4 linked regions of the Homo sapiens genome follow. The protein of the gene in region 3 interacts with the protein of the main gene of each other region in a pairwise test. Each region holds a gene or a part of one and is shown on either strand. Other genes may lie near its edges.

The links. The genes of interacting proteins can lie anywhere in the genome.
Region 1: the proteins of ATXN1L (region 3) and SPMIP9 interact in binary tests that used the Homo sapiens proteins (3 or more experiments, as listed by UniProt).
Region 2: the proteins of ATXN1L (region 3) and C1orf94 interact in binary tests that used the Homo sapiens proteins (3 or more experiments, as listed by UniProt).
Region 4: the proteins of ATXN1L (region 3) and SHISA2 interact in binary tests that used the Homo sapiens proteins (3 or more experiments, as listed by UniProt).

The regions. Positions count from the first base shown.
Region 1 is NC_000002.12:88,523,405-88,527,448, forward strand, and holds the start of SPMIP9 (protein SPMIP9), read left to right. Parts: upstream 1-1,244; 5' UTR 1,245-1,378; exon of another isoform or gene 1,379-1,402; intron 1,403-2,005; exon of another isoform or gene 2,006-2,095; intron 2,096-2,230; 5' UTR 2,231-2,240; coding exon 2,241-2,267; intron 2,268-3,000; coding exon 3,001-3,093; intron 3,094-4,044. UniProt on the Homo sapiens protein: Microtubule inner protein (MIP) part of the dynein-decorated doublet microtubules (DMTs) in flagella axoneme.
Region 2 is NC_000001.11:34,204,407-34,207,906, forward strand, and holds part of C1orf94 (uncharacterized protein C1orf94), read left to right. Parts: intron 1-3,500.
Region 3 is NC_000016.10:71,848,604-71,852,475, forward strand, and holds part of ATXN1L (ataxin-1-like), read left to right. Parts: intron 1-1,020; 5' UTR 1,021-1,137; coding exon 1,138-3,207; 3' UTR 3,208-3,872. UniProt on the Homo sapiens protein: Chromatin-binding factor that repress Notch signaling in the absence of Notch intracellular domain by acting as a CBF1 corepressor. Binds to the HEY promoter and might assist, along with NCOR2, RBPJ-mediated repression.
Region 4 is NC_000013.11:26,046,557-26,049,016, reverse strand, and holds part of SHISA2 (protein shisa-2 homolog precursor), read left to right. Parts: intron 1-1,950; coding exon 1,951-2,460. UniProt on the Homo sapiens protein: Plays an essential role in the maturation of presomitic mesoderm cells by individual attenuation of both FGF and WNT signaling.

The DNA of each region.
Region 1 (4,044 bases), on a different chromosome or scaffold from region 3:
CATATATATAACAAAGTTTATCATTTTAGTCACTTTTAAGTGAATAATTCAGTGGCATTAAGTACATTCACAATGGGCAACCATCACCACCATCCATTCCCAGAACTTTTTTTAATATTCTGAAACAGAAACTTCATATCCATTAAACAGTAACTCCCCATTCCTCTCCTCAGTCTCTGGCAACTATCATTCTACTTTCTGTCTCTATGAATTGTACTTCTCTAGGTACCTCGCAGAAGTGGAATCATGCAGCATTTTTCTTTTTGTGACCGGCTTATTTTGCTTTATTTTGCTTAGCATAATGTCCTCAAGGTTTATCCATGCTGTAGCACGTGTCAGAATTGCCTTCCCTTTTTTTTTTTTTTTTTAATTTTGTTTTGAGACAGAGTGTCGCTCTGTTACACAGGCTGGAGTGCAGTGGTGTGATCTCGGCTCACTGCAACCTCTGCCTCCCGAGTTGAAGCAATTCTTCTGCCTCAGCCTCCCGAGTAGCTGGGACTACAGGCGTGCACCACCACACCCGGCTAATTTTTGTATTTTTAGTAGAGACGGGGTTTCACCATGTTAGTCAGGCTGGTCTGGAACTTCTGACCTCAGGCAAACTGCCTGCCTCGGCCTCCCAAGTTGCTGGGATTACCAGCGTGAGCCACCGTGCCTGGCCTCCCTTTTAAGGCTGAATAATATTCCATTGTACGTAGATACCAAATCCATTCATCTCTGAAGGACATGTAAGTTGTTTCTACCTTTTGACTATTGTGAACCATGCTGTTGTGAACGTTGGTGTACAGGTATCCATTTGAGCCCTTGCTTTCAATTCTTTTTTATTTATAACTAGAAGTGGAATTTCTCCACATCCTCATCAACGCTTGTTTCTGTATTTTTTTTTTATTGTAGCCACACACTATGAATGTCAAAAAGTGACATTTTGACAATTTTGAGCCAGGCTTTCAGGCAGCAGAGGCCTGGGTGGCAGTCTGTGGTGTGAAGTGGATTTAGTCACACACAGTCTGATGTTGTAAACCACATGGGCTCTATTTACCTTCCTCTCCTAGGACTAGGAAGATTCTGTAGAGTATCGGAAAGCATTGGTTCATGTGCTGCCAGGATTCATGTTGGCTCTGGTGAGCCAGGGACAGGGAACTGACCTGCAGGCAGCCCAAGCAGCCACCTACTCACCTCACAATGACAGGGACCCTCATCATACAGGTCAGGGCTCAACTCAAAGACAGGCGTGGCAGTGGGACACAGCAACAGGACTCTCCATGTGGCAAGGGCACCTGGAGGTGGGAGGGCAGGAGCGTCGTCTTGCCCTGGCAGAAGAAGCGGTAGGCTCTGTCTGCGTGGCAGCTGGTCCCCAGCCCTAGGAGAGAAGCTGTCTGTGAGCAAAAGGGAGGGGATACAGGTGTTGGTTGAGGTCTGGGCACCACCCTGCTGGGCCACAGTCTGCTGAAGAGAGTGGGGCTTAGGGGAGGGTTCCCTGGGAATGCAGTGGAGTACCCCTTAAGGATCTAGGGGCCACGCACACAAGGAGTCTGTGCAGCGAGGCCCTCGCTAGGACTTCAGGGCTGGAAGGGAGGGGTCAGTGTTAGGCCTACAAACTACTGTTGTTCAACTGGGAATGCAGAGTCTTGCAACTTTCTTCACCTTGGATACTCCCCTGTGAATCAAGGTGGCTCTGAGTCCTAGGCCTGGGCCTTCCTCTATCCAGGGGAAGTGCTGAGGCCTGGTTCAGAGGAACATGTGAGCTGGAGCCAGTTCATACTGGCTCACAAGAGCCCATCCTGTGCATATCTGTGCAACTCAGTGCCAATGACATTATGTTGATAGCCTGAAATGAGCCATGATAGGAGCATTTACACCACAGAAATTGGCAGATGCTATAAACCCAGGGCCTATTTTCCCTGAAAACATGGTTGTTAAACATTTACCAGCACTTCACTTGCCCTAGGATCAGCTATACCTCTCAAACAGTAAACCTGATCAGTAAATGTGATCTTCTAAACAGCCCTCATTCCTCCTGAGTCCTGCTCCAGCCCCTTTGTCCCAGGGACCCTGGTATCACCACCAACCCCTTGATGATGGAGTGACATGCAGGGTAGGAGCCCAGGGAAGATGGGGAGGAGTGGGCTAAGAAAGCTGGGGCAGCCATGCTTGGTTGGCACAGCTTGAAGATAGTGGCTACTTTCCTTGTCTGTGGCAGAGCAGGGCTAAACAACTTGTCTGTGTCTAGGTCGTTTGCCATGGCAGGTGTGAAATACCCGGGACAGGTGAGTGATGTGGGTTTCTGTCCCCTGTGACGGTCTCAGGGTTGGGTAGCCTCAGCAAGGCCCTGGAAGGGCCAGGCTCTTTCTAGAAGCTCATCTTTCTGTAATGATAGTTTTGGGTTTTGTGGGTTTTTTTTTTTTTTGGTACAAGAAGAAGAAGAGAACTGAGTTTTCTTCTTTATAATTTTCTGGGGGTTCAGTTATTTACTCAGCATGCACTTATTAGGCACCCACAGTGTGCCAGGCCCTGTCCTGGGCTTTGGGACTGCAGAGATGTCTAAGTACACTAAACCTGCTCTAGTGTACTTCATTAAATCCATCACAGTACACCCTGCAAGTGCTGTTGTGGAGGGTTGTAAGGAACAAGGAAAGGGTTTAACTCTTGGGAGGTGGAGAATAAAAGGGTGGGAGAGATGTTTTGGGGAAGTGACATTTAGTCTGGGTCTTGGAGGATAGGTAGGAGTTTGCTAGTCTGTGAGGAGGGCAACTTGCATTTCCATCAGGAGATAGGAAAGAGCACATGCCAGGCCCATGCAAGTGGGAGGAAGTAAGGCTGGAGTAGAGAAGGCAGGAAGGTGGCGGGATGGTAAAAATGGGTCACAGCCAGATCATTTGGGCTCTGAATGTCAGGCCCCAAAGTCGGCCTTTGTCCTACAAACAGCAAGAAGCCATTGAATGGCTTTAAGTGGAGGAGTGACGAGGGAATCTCTTGTTTTATATTCTCCTTGTGCTTTAGGACCCTGTGGATTTAGACATATACCAAAGCTCCCACATGGTCGACTATCAGCCCTACAGGAAGCACAAATACTCCAGGGTCACGCCGCAAGAGGTAGGAAGGCACGCAAGTCCTGTCATTCAATCAACTGCCTACTGAAATCCTCTCTGTTGCTTCATTTGTATTACAAATGTGGACATTTGGGCCCTTGTTAGAACAATATCCAATGCCAGGAGATATGACTTAGAGATCTTTTCTGTGCATGTGCATGTATGTGTGTGTATTTTTTTTTTCTTTTTGAGAAGGAGTCTTACTCTGTCACCCAGGCTGGAGTGCAGTGGCGCGATCTCGGCTCACTACAACCTCTGCCGCCTGCCTGGATTCAAGCGATTCTCCTGCCTCAACTTCCTGAGTAGCTGGGATTACAGGTGCCTGCCACTGCGTCAGCTAATTTTTGTATTTTTAGTAGAGATGGGATTTCACCATCCTGGCCAGGCTGATCTTGAACTCCTGACCTCGTGATCCACCTGCCTCGGCCTCCCAAAGTGCTAGAATTACAGGCGTGAGCCACCGTGGCCGGCCATGTGTGTATGTTTTCAAATGTACATCAAATACGTCATGCATACAAAAAATTGTAAATAATACACATTTAGAGTTAAAATTACACTGATAAACACCGATGTAACCATTACAGACCGCTTAAAACATGGCACATTAACATTAGCAGTACCTTGTAGCCTCTTGGTAACCCGCAAACTTACCCCTCCTCCCATCTCCAGAAGTGGTTAATCATTCCCTTGTAGGCCAGGCACAGTGGCTCACACCTGGAATCCCAGCATTTTGGGAGGCAGAGGCGGCCAGGAGTTGAGACCAGGGGTTTGAGACCAGGAGTTTGAGGCCAGCAGTTCGAGACCAGCCTGGCTGACATGGCGAAATCCCGTCTCTATAAAAAATACAAAAATTAGCCTGGCTTGTTGGTGCACGCTTGTATTTTCAGCTGCGTGGAAGGCTGAGACATGAGAATTGCTTGAACCTGGGAGGTGGGGCGAGACTCTATCCCCCCCA
Region 2 (3,500 bases), on a different chromosome or scaffold from region 3:
GTGAGAGGTTGTGATGAAAGGTGACCTAAGAAGGAAGCTGAAGTGGACCAGTTTCATATTAGTAGTCTATTGTCATGGACCTGTTCATATCAGTAGTCTATTGTCCTTACACAGGTCTTGAAATGTCCTGTTCATTGATTCGCTGACTCCTTTACCAATATGATTCTACCCTTTCATTTTTGTGTGCCTATTCACTATTCATTTACTCACCTACTCACGATTTACTCATTTCTATGTATTTATTTACTCATTAATTTAAGTAATTTTGAAAACCATTTCTCCCTACAAGCCTACTAGAGGCTGAGCATTGTTCTAGGTGGAGGGATTCAAAGATGACTAAAGTCAGGTGTGGTGGCATGTGCCTGGAGTCCCAGCCTACACCAGAGGCTGAGATAGGAGAATTGCTTGAGCTCAGGTGTTCAAGACTAGCCTGAACAATATAGTGAAACCCTGTCTCTAAAAAAAAAAAATGATGACTAAGAAAAGCTTGGAGTCTAATGCAAGTTCAGGAATAAACCAGAGATCAGCTCTATGCATCTCCACCTCTAAAGGGGAAACAACTGCATAATTCATTTAGTACAAGTCGATTCACTCTAAAATGCCCTCACAGAGCTCACCGTGTAAAACTAATTTGCAATGGTTTGCTTTATTAAGTGGGGATAGCATCTCTTTGCTATGTTAATTTCTTCTGACTTTTTGGAGTGGGTGAGATTTGGACATATCATTTTCTGAGCATGACGGTCCTCTGTCTTTAGCATCATAGGGCTGACTATGAGGTTCCTGGGCTTCTGAGCAGAAGCAGCAGAAGGACCCTGGCTGGTAAGGCCTGCTGGGTTCTTTGAGACAGTTTAAGCACTGAATGGGCCCAGCTGAAGTTGGCTGTGGAAGGCATTGGTCCTCCCAGGTAATAAGGAAGGACAGCATAATTTACCTTCTCCCAGCTTCTGTGATCTCACAATGCTGTCCAGCTTCAACATAGCTGATCAAGGGGCCTGAGATAATAGCAGGCAGGTTTTGAAACCAGTAGACTTGACTTTAAAGGTTCTGCTGCTTCCAAGTTAGGCCTTAGGCTGGTTAGCTGCTCAGAGCCATGGTTCCTCATTTGTGAAATGGGTTCATAATAATTGCAGCAGCAGCAGCAGTAGCTACTGATATGGTTGTAAGGATTAATTGAGTCCATGGAAGGGTAAAGACTCTGTAAAATTTAAGCTGTGACACAGATGTTGGTTTTTATTATTATTCAGCCTCAATCTTCCAAGGAAATGGGGTCAGAGAGCTCCACAGACCTTGAGGGGACAGAGAGGAGAAATGGGGAACAGTCTAGCCTGGTCTTTTCCCTGTTTAGCACTGGGAATAAAGATAAGGTCCCAAATCCAATTTACTCAGAGCTCTGTGGTAGGAGGACTCAGAGATGTGAAAGACAAAGTCCCCAACACCGAGGAGCTTCAGAGGCTCCTGGGCTACTTGGCATAAAGGAACTCTGCTCCCAATGAAGGAGGGAGGGTGCGTGGGAAGGGACCATGGCTTAAGCAAAGAACAGTGAATGTTTATTTACCCTTGCCTGTGATGTTACAAACTTGCAATTCTAACAACTAGAAATGTTGTTGAAGTCATGCAGTGTTTTCTAACTCATGAGTGTGGCACCATCTCCTGAGAATCCGCCCTGGGACTGAGCAGCGGTGGGCAGCTGTTTGCCATCCACAGAGCCTAGGGCAGCCTGGCACAAGCAGGTGTGGGATGGTGGAGGCTGGGGAAGTTGGCTGTAGAAAGCAAGGGGCACCTTCCTCCCTGGTGCTCCCAGGAGGACCAGGGCCACCAGCTTAAGCCCTCTGCTGTCCCTACTGTATGGGCTCCTGTGAGGGGTGGATGGCATGGCCCATGCTGGGCATTCTGGAGACTGCTCAGTGCTGTACCTGAGGGAGAAGATGATGAAAAAGAGGCAGAGGGAAGATGAAAGATTCCCATAGGGAAGCTCAGCTGCTGCAACTTAGGCTCTGCGGTCTGGAGGCATAGCTCTGGTCACCCTCTAAGAGGGTACGATGAGTCTCAAAAATGGTGACATGGAATGCTCCCAGCAGAGATCTTTGTGTATGATGCCGTGCACACACACAATTGCACACAAACGATATCCATGCATGTTTGATGCACACACATAGAAACAGAAACAGGCAGGCGCACGACTGCCTGTAGAAAGCAGAGATGAGTGCTAACAGGGATCAGAGGAGGCGGCGAAACAGAGGAGGGACACTTAGCAACATGCCTAGTGGCCTTGGAGCTCATGGAGGGCTGAGAACAGGTAAGGCAACACCATCAGTCTCACTGCTCTGTCCAGGTTCAGGCAGAGGCTGGGGTTGCAGGGACCGGGCAGTGGTCATAACAGGAGAGAGAGGCTGCCCTGGGCTGTAGAGCTTGGAGTAAAGGGGAGCAGGTGAGTGGTTTCAGGTGAAGGAGTGGACAAAAGTGGGAGGGGCCTGAGCATGGGAATGTCAGGAGTGTCCCCTGCATGGGAGCAGAGAGCAAGGAGGGGCTCTGAGAAGAGGTACACTCTTGGGGACCTGGAAGATGGAGCAGGAGGAGAGCAGGGAGACCTACTTGCAGACTCCATATCAGAAAGTCCACAGGCCATGAGGGAACCCTCAAGGGTGTAGGGTCAGCCATCATCAACACTTTGGTCATTGGCACAAGCTGAGCTGAGAATGGAGGCAGCCTCTCGGGCAGCAGATCTTCTGAGAAGATGTCCTGGGCTGAGGGGTACTTTGGGTTTTGAGCCTCATCTTAAGGGAAAACTCGGGATTGACAGGTGGAGGCAGAGTCTGAGACTAGAACTGACCACTGCCACAGCAGCAGTTCTGCGGGGTGTGTGTGTGTGTGTGTGTGTGTGTGTGTGTGTGTGTGTGTCTTACGTCTGTGTGTGGACACATGAGCACCTCAAGACAGAATTGTGAGTAAAATGTCAATTTCCCATCTGGCTGAACTGCCAGAAAGCTGTTTAAGGGAGGAGGCAGTGATGGATGACAAACACACTGAACATTGAGTCCTTACTATGTGCAGGGCACTGTTCTAAGCTCTTTAGATGTATTAACACTTTCACCCTCACAGTGCCCCTCTCCGTAAGCTACAGACACAGGTATATGGATGGGCACATAGATACACAGCAACACTAACACACCTGGGTTCACAGTTGTATATTTGTACACAGAAATACACAGCTGCATAGACACAAATGTAAACACACATGCAGGTGTATTTAACATGGATGCAAACCAACACACACACGTAGAGACGTGCATAGACACCTTGTGTCTTCAGGGGGCAGGTATGGGATTAGGGGAAGGCATTTAGAAAAGTTGTGTGGACAGCAACAAAGATAATGTGGCTACCTTCATAGGCTTTGCAGGCCTGAGCACATGCAATTTTTTAGAGAAGGAAAAAGAGGCTCAGAGATGTGATTTGCCCAAGGTCACACAGCCACTAAAACACAGATCTGGGACTCGGGAGGC
Region 3 (3,872 bases):
TTTCACTATATAGAGGCTGAGTTAAAATGTATTATTTCATGGGTCAAAGATGTTAATTTTCATAACCTGGTTAGGGAGCAAAGTCTTAAAAAAAAAAACAAAACACGAGCAGACCTGAGGGTTTTGGCACCTAGGTCCTTGAGGTACTGATGAGATGAGGCAAAGGAGGAAGAGAGTTTTTAGCCAGGCTTGGGATAGCAGTAGGTGAGATCATAACCCAAATTAGGCTACAGAAAGGAAGCAAGGATGAGGTCATATGTTCAGGAAAGAAGGTGGCACATTCATGTTTGGTAGCAAAAGGAGAAACTTAAGAAAAAGAGCCAGCAGGAGGCTGGGCGCTGTGGCTCACACCCGTAATCCCAGCACTTTGGGAGGCTGAGGTGGGCGGATCACCCAAGGGCAGGCGTTCGAGACTAGCCTGGCCAACATGGTGAAACCCCATCTCTACTAAAAATACAAAGTTAGCCAGGCGTGGTGGTGCATGCCTGTAGTCCCAGCTGCTTGGGAGGCTGAGGCAGGAGAATTGCTTGAACCCGGGAGGCGAGGTTGCGGTGAGCTGAGATTGCACCATGTACTGTGGCCAGGGCAACAAGAGCAAAACTCCATGTGTTTTAAAAAAAAAAAAAAAAAAAAAAAAAAGCAAAAGAGCCAGCAGGAAAGACCATGTGTTCAAAGCCCCCTTTGGGAAGAAGGCAGAAAAGAGACAAGGTGCTTATGAGACACATGACTAACCGTGAAGCTGTTGGTCTCCCTGGGCTTGTGGAGCCCACAGGTTATTTGTGCATTGGTGAATGCGTGTCCCTGTAGCTCTTTGTGCCTTGTGATTTCCCCGACTGTTTCTCTCATGTCCCAGGCTGGATGAGTTGGGGGTAGCCTCCTTGTCTGCCCCTTTCTCTTTCCTCCTTATTTTCTAACAGTCCCCTTTGTTACATCTTCCTCCATGGCACAGTTCTTTCTATTTCCTTTGTCTTGGCTCATCCCTAGGTTACTTTTCTTTGCCTCTGATTTGTTCCCTAATAGATGTGGGCGCCCCAGCCAGAAGCAGAGAGGGGTACAGGGAAGCTACAGAGAAGCCCCTTCTGATGCCCCAGGGAGCAAGTCGACTCCTTCCAGGCTCCAGGAACACCACAAAGCAATATGAAACCTGTTCATGAAAGGAGTCAGGAATGCCTTCCACCAAAGAAACGAGACCTCCCCGTGACCAGCGAGGATATGGGGAGAACTACCAGCTGCTCCACTAACCACACACCCTCCAGTGATGCTTCTGAATGGTCCCGAGGGGTTGTGGTGGCTGGGCAGAGCCAGGCAGGAGCCAGAGTCAGCCTGGGGGGTGATGGAGCTGAGGCCATCACCGGTCTGACAGTGGACCAGTATGGCATGCTGTATAAGGTGGCTGTGCCGCCTGCCACCTTTTCACCAACTGGACTCCCATCTGTGGTGAATATGAGTCCCTTGCCCCCAACGTTTAATGTAGCGTCTTCACTAATTCAACATCCAGGCATCCACTATCCTCCACTCCACTATGCTCAGCTCCCATCCACCTCGCTGCAGTTCATTGGGTCTCCTTATAGCCTTCCCTATGCTGTGCCACCTAATTTCCTACCGAGTCCCCTCCTATCTCCTTCTGCCAACCTTGCCACCTCTCACCTTCCACACTTTGTGCCATATGCCTCACTTCTGGCTGAAGGAGCCACTCCTCCCCCACAGGCTCCCTCCCCGGCCCACTCATTTAACAAAGCTCCCTCTGCCACCTCCCCATCTGGGCAATTGCCACATCATTCAAGTACTCAGCCGCTGGACCTTGCTCCAGGTCGGATGCCCATTTATTATCAGATGTCCAGGCTACCTGCTGGGTATACTTTGCATGAAACCCCTCCAGCAGGTGCCAGCCCAGTTCTTACCCCTCAGGAGAGCCAGTCTGCTCTGGAAGCAGCTGCTGCAAATGGAGGACAGAGACCACGAGAGCGAAATTTAGTAAGACGGGAAAGTGAAGCCCTTGACTCCCCCAACAGCAAGGGTGAAGGCCAGGGACTGGTGCCAGTGGTAGAATGTGTGGTGGATGGACAGTTGTTTTCAGGTTCTCAGACTCCACGGGTAGAGGTAGCAGCACCAGCACACCGGGGGACCCCGGACACTGACCTTGAGGTCCAGCGGGTGGTTGGCGCTTTAGCTTCTCAGGACTATCGTGTGGTGGCAGCTCAGAGGAAGGAGGAACCCAGCCCCCTCAACCTATCCCATCATACCCCCGACCATCAGGGTGAGGGGCGAGGGTCAGCCAGGAACCCTGCAGAGCTGGCAGAGAAAAGTCAGGCCCGTGGGTTCTACCCTCAGTCCCATCAGGAACCAGTAAAACATAGACCTTTACCCAAAGCAATGGTTGTAGCCAATGGCAACCTGGTGCCCACTGGAACTGACTCAGGCCTGCTGCCTGTGGGCTCGGAGATCCTGGTAGCATCAAGTCTGGACGTGCAGGCCAGAGCCACCTTCCCAGACAAGGAGCCAACGCCGCCCCCCATTACCTCCTCTCACTTGCCTTCCCATTTCATGAAAGGCGCCATCATCCAGCTGGCTACGGGAGAGCTGAAGCGGGTGGAGGACCTCCAGACCCAGGATTTTGTGCGCAGTGCCGAAGTGAGCGGGGGGCTGAAGATTGACTCTAGCACGGTCGTGGACATTCAGGAGAGCCAATGGCCTGGATTTGTCATGCTGCATTTTGTGGTTGGTGAGCAGCAGAGCAAAGTGAGCATCGAAGTGCCCCCCGAGCACCCCTTCTTTGTATATGGCCAGGGTTGGTCCTCTTGCAGCCCTGGGCGGACGACACAACTCTTCTCTCTGCCCTGCCATCGGCTACAGGTGGGAGATGTCTGCATCTCTATCAGTTTACAGAGCTTGAACAGTAACTCAGTTTCTCAGGCCAGCTGTGCTCCCCCAAGCCAGCTGGGTCCCCCCCGAGAAAGGCCTGAGAGGACGGTCTTGGGATCCAGAGAGCTATGTGACAGTGAGGGGAAGAGCCAGCCGGCAGGAGAGGGCTCCCGTGTGGTAGAGCCTTCCCAGCCTGAGTCCGGTGCTCAGGCCTGCTGGCCAGCCCCGAGCTTCCAAAGATACAGCATGCAAGGGGAGGAGGCACGGGCTGCGCTGCTCCGTCCCTCTTTCATTCCACAGGAGGTAAAGCTGTCCATTGAAGGGCGTTCCAATGCGGGAAAATGAACCTCTTCCCCAGACCAGGACTGGGGCTTTACCCCAGAGCCTCGCCTCGCCGCCGTGAGCAGGCAGAGGATTTGCACACGCCGAGCAGGGAATGGCTTTCTTGGCAGTGAGATTTGGGGGAAAGGGGAGGCATGAAGTCAGCCTCCCAAGGCAGGATCTGTTGTTCATTACCCCATGGCATCCTTTCAGGACAACCCCAGAGGGTGTTGTGATGGGGAGCAGCAGGCCTGGGGCAAGGAAGGAAGGGGGTGCACACAGGAGAAGAAACATTCCAAAATCAGGGCCTCCCTGTTCTTTCCTCCCCATCCCTAGCTCCTGCAAGAGAAAGTCCAGGCTTTGGGAGCAGATGGCAGAGGGAGGGAGTAAAGAAAGAGCCAAAAATGATGATCCACAGCTTATAGTAGCAGTTAAACTGTCAGAAGTTTTTTTTCTTTTTTGTGGTAGAAGGGCAGGAGGCCCCAAGGTTGGAAATAAGAGGGTTCCCACCCAGAACCCTTCTTGTGAGAGATGCGCACTTTAAAGGGTGATTTTGTTCCAGATGTCTATGGCTGGGTGTGTGGGGGAGGAGCACTCTCATCTGCAGGACTCTGCTTGATCCTCTGCTTCATAGCCCTTCCCCATCTCTCCTCACCATTCTGCCTACAAGGCTTCTAGCAGCACGGGGG
Region 4 (2,460 bases), on a different chromosome or scaffold from region 3:
ACGCCAAGGAAAAAGCCTGCATCCACTTCTCCAGTGATCCGTAGTTAGCCTGAAGTGATAGTGTAATTAGGACAGTTCTACTGCTGGGCGCCAGCTGTGCTGCAGACACTGTAGCAAATGTTTCTACCTGCTAAAGGGGCGCTATATATAGAAATTGCTCTGTTCAGCATTGAAACTCCAGGAAATATTCCACAGTCAGCCTTTGGTTAAATACCTATAAAGTATTGTTTTACTTACAGGGCATTATTTCTCCATAATTCCACCTGGTATTATACTTTAAAAACACTGACTCCAGCAATACCAGAACAGTGAAAAGGAGCATAATTAGAAAGCCCGGCTGCTCTAATGGATGATGAAAGGGTATTCATAGAGCTGACCTCAAAGGCGTGGTCTCCTTCCTAAAATGCTGCCCCATCCGACTCTGGGCTGGCATTATGCTTTGCCAAGACCAGTAAGACCCAATCCACCCCTGTGCTTATGTATTTCCCAAAAATATAGCCAGGAGGTTGGGGCAAGAACACATCAGAAAATGCAGGCTCTTGGTAACATAGGGTAGAATTCCACAAAAGTGGCTCAGAGGCATTCTGCAGGCACCTCCCATCTGATTCTGTCCCTGTCAACCTGCGTCTATTTTCTAAAGCCTTGTAGTGCCCTCTCTATGGCTCCTAAAAGATTTTTTTAAGAAACTAATTTTATGTATTTATTTATTTATTTGAGATGGAATCTCAATCTGTTGCCCAGGCTGGAGTACAGTGGCACAATCTCGGCTTACTGCAACTTCTGCCTCCTGGGTTCAAGCGATTCTCCTGCCTCAGCCTCCAGAGTAGCTGGGATTATAGGTGCGCGTCACCACACTCAGCTAAATTTTGTGGTTTTAGTAGAGACAGGGTCTCACCATGTTGGCCAGGCTGGTCTTGAAGTCCTGAGCTCAGGTGATCCACCCACCTTGGCCTCCCAAAGTGCTTGGATTACAGGCGTGAGCCACCGTGCCCCGCCAGAAACTAATTTTAAAATGGAGTTTGCTAGTGGTTTTATCAAAAGGTTTTTATTTTTACTTTTTATGGTTTTCTATTTTAAAATCAGCTTCCCGGGTGAAGTGTGATGGCCGTTGCTTTATGCTCTGAGGGCTTTCCCTGTGTACTCTTGCCTTCTTGGCTTGCTGTGGGTGACTCTTCTTTCTGGAACACGTCTTGTTGCTCCTGATGTTTGCTCTTGGACATTGTTTCAGGATGGCCCAATGCCTGGAATAACTTCCCTCCACCTCCACACAGACCCCATCACCTGGACCCAATGCCACCCAAGGACCCTGGCTTTTGCTAAGGAAGAGTGAAGAGGGTCTTTTTTAAACCCCTCCTTGACCCTTCTGTGCCTTACCTCTTGTACATCTGCCTTTTGGAAATGGTAGTGACTTAGAGTCTGGCCTAAATTTTTGACTTAACTGCTTATGAAAAAAGAACTTGCTAAAAAATGGTAAAAAGAAATTTGCAAGGAACTTAAATAACTTTCTGGGGGAAAAAAGACTTTTAAATAAGTTGAAGTCATTATTACTATGAAGATCCTACAACAATATGGTCGGGCAGACTTAAGTTTGGACAGTTTGATTATGGTAGGAAGTTTAGAACCATAACTGTCTTAACCTGTTAAACCCATACTTTTGCTAAATCGGATATCTGGCTCAGTCAGTCTTGCAGTTGACAAGTTGAACTAAATATTAACAGTTTGCTTCTAGGGGCTGACCTGCCATGCCTGTAGGGTCTTAGGACCTTTCTAAGCACTTGATAAAGAATGGTGCATCTTATGGACTCCTAATATGTGAACAAATTAGCCCAGTGTAGGTCCTTCAGCTGTGGGTATCAGTGTTGCTCATTCATTCATTGCCATTGCCAGTTGGCGATTGGTACTGTGTTCCTAGAGTAGATCATAATGTTGTGTTTCTGTCCTTTGCTTCAGTGCCCATCTACGTGCCGTTCCTCATTGTTGGCTCCGTGTTTGTCGCCTTTATCATCTTGGGGTCCCTGGTGGCAGCCTGTTGCTGCAGATGTCTCCGGCCTAAGCAGGATCCCCAGCAGAGCCGAGCCCCAGGGGGTAACCGCTTGATGGAGACCATCCCCATGATCCCCAGTGCCAGCACCTCCCGGGGGTCGTCCTCACGCCAGTCCAGCACAGCTGCCAGTTCCAGCTCCAGCGCCAACTCAGGGGCCCGGGCGCCCCCAACAAGGTCACAGACCAACTGTTGCTTGCCGGAAGGGACCATGAACAACGTGTATGTCAACATGCCCACGAATTTCTCTGTGCTGAACTGTCAGCAGGCCACCCAGATTGTGCCACATCAAGGGCAGTATCTGCATCCCCCATACGTGGGGTACACGGTGCAGCACGACTCTGTGCCCATGACAGCTGTGCCACCTTTCATGGACGGCCTGCAGCCTGGCTACAGGCAGATTCAGTCCCCCTTCCCTC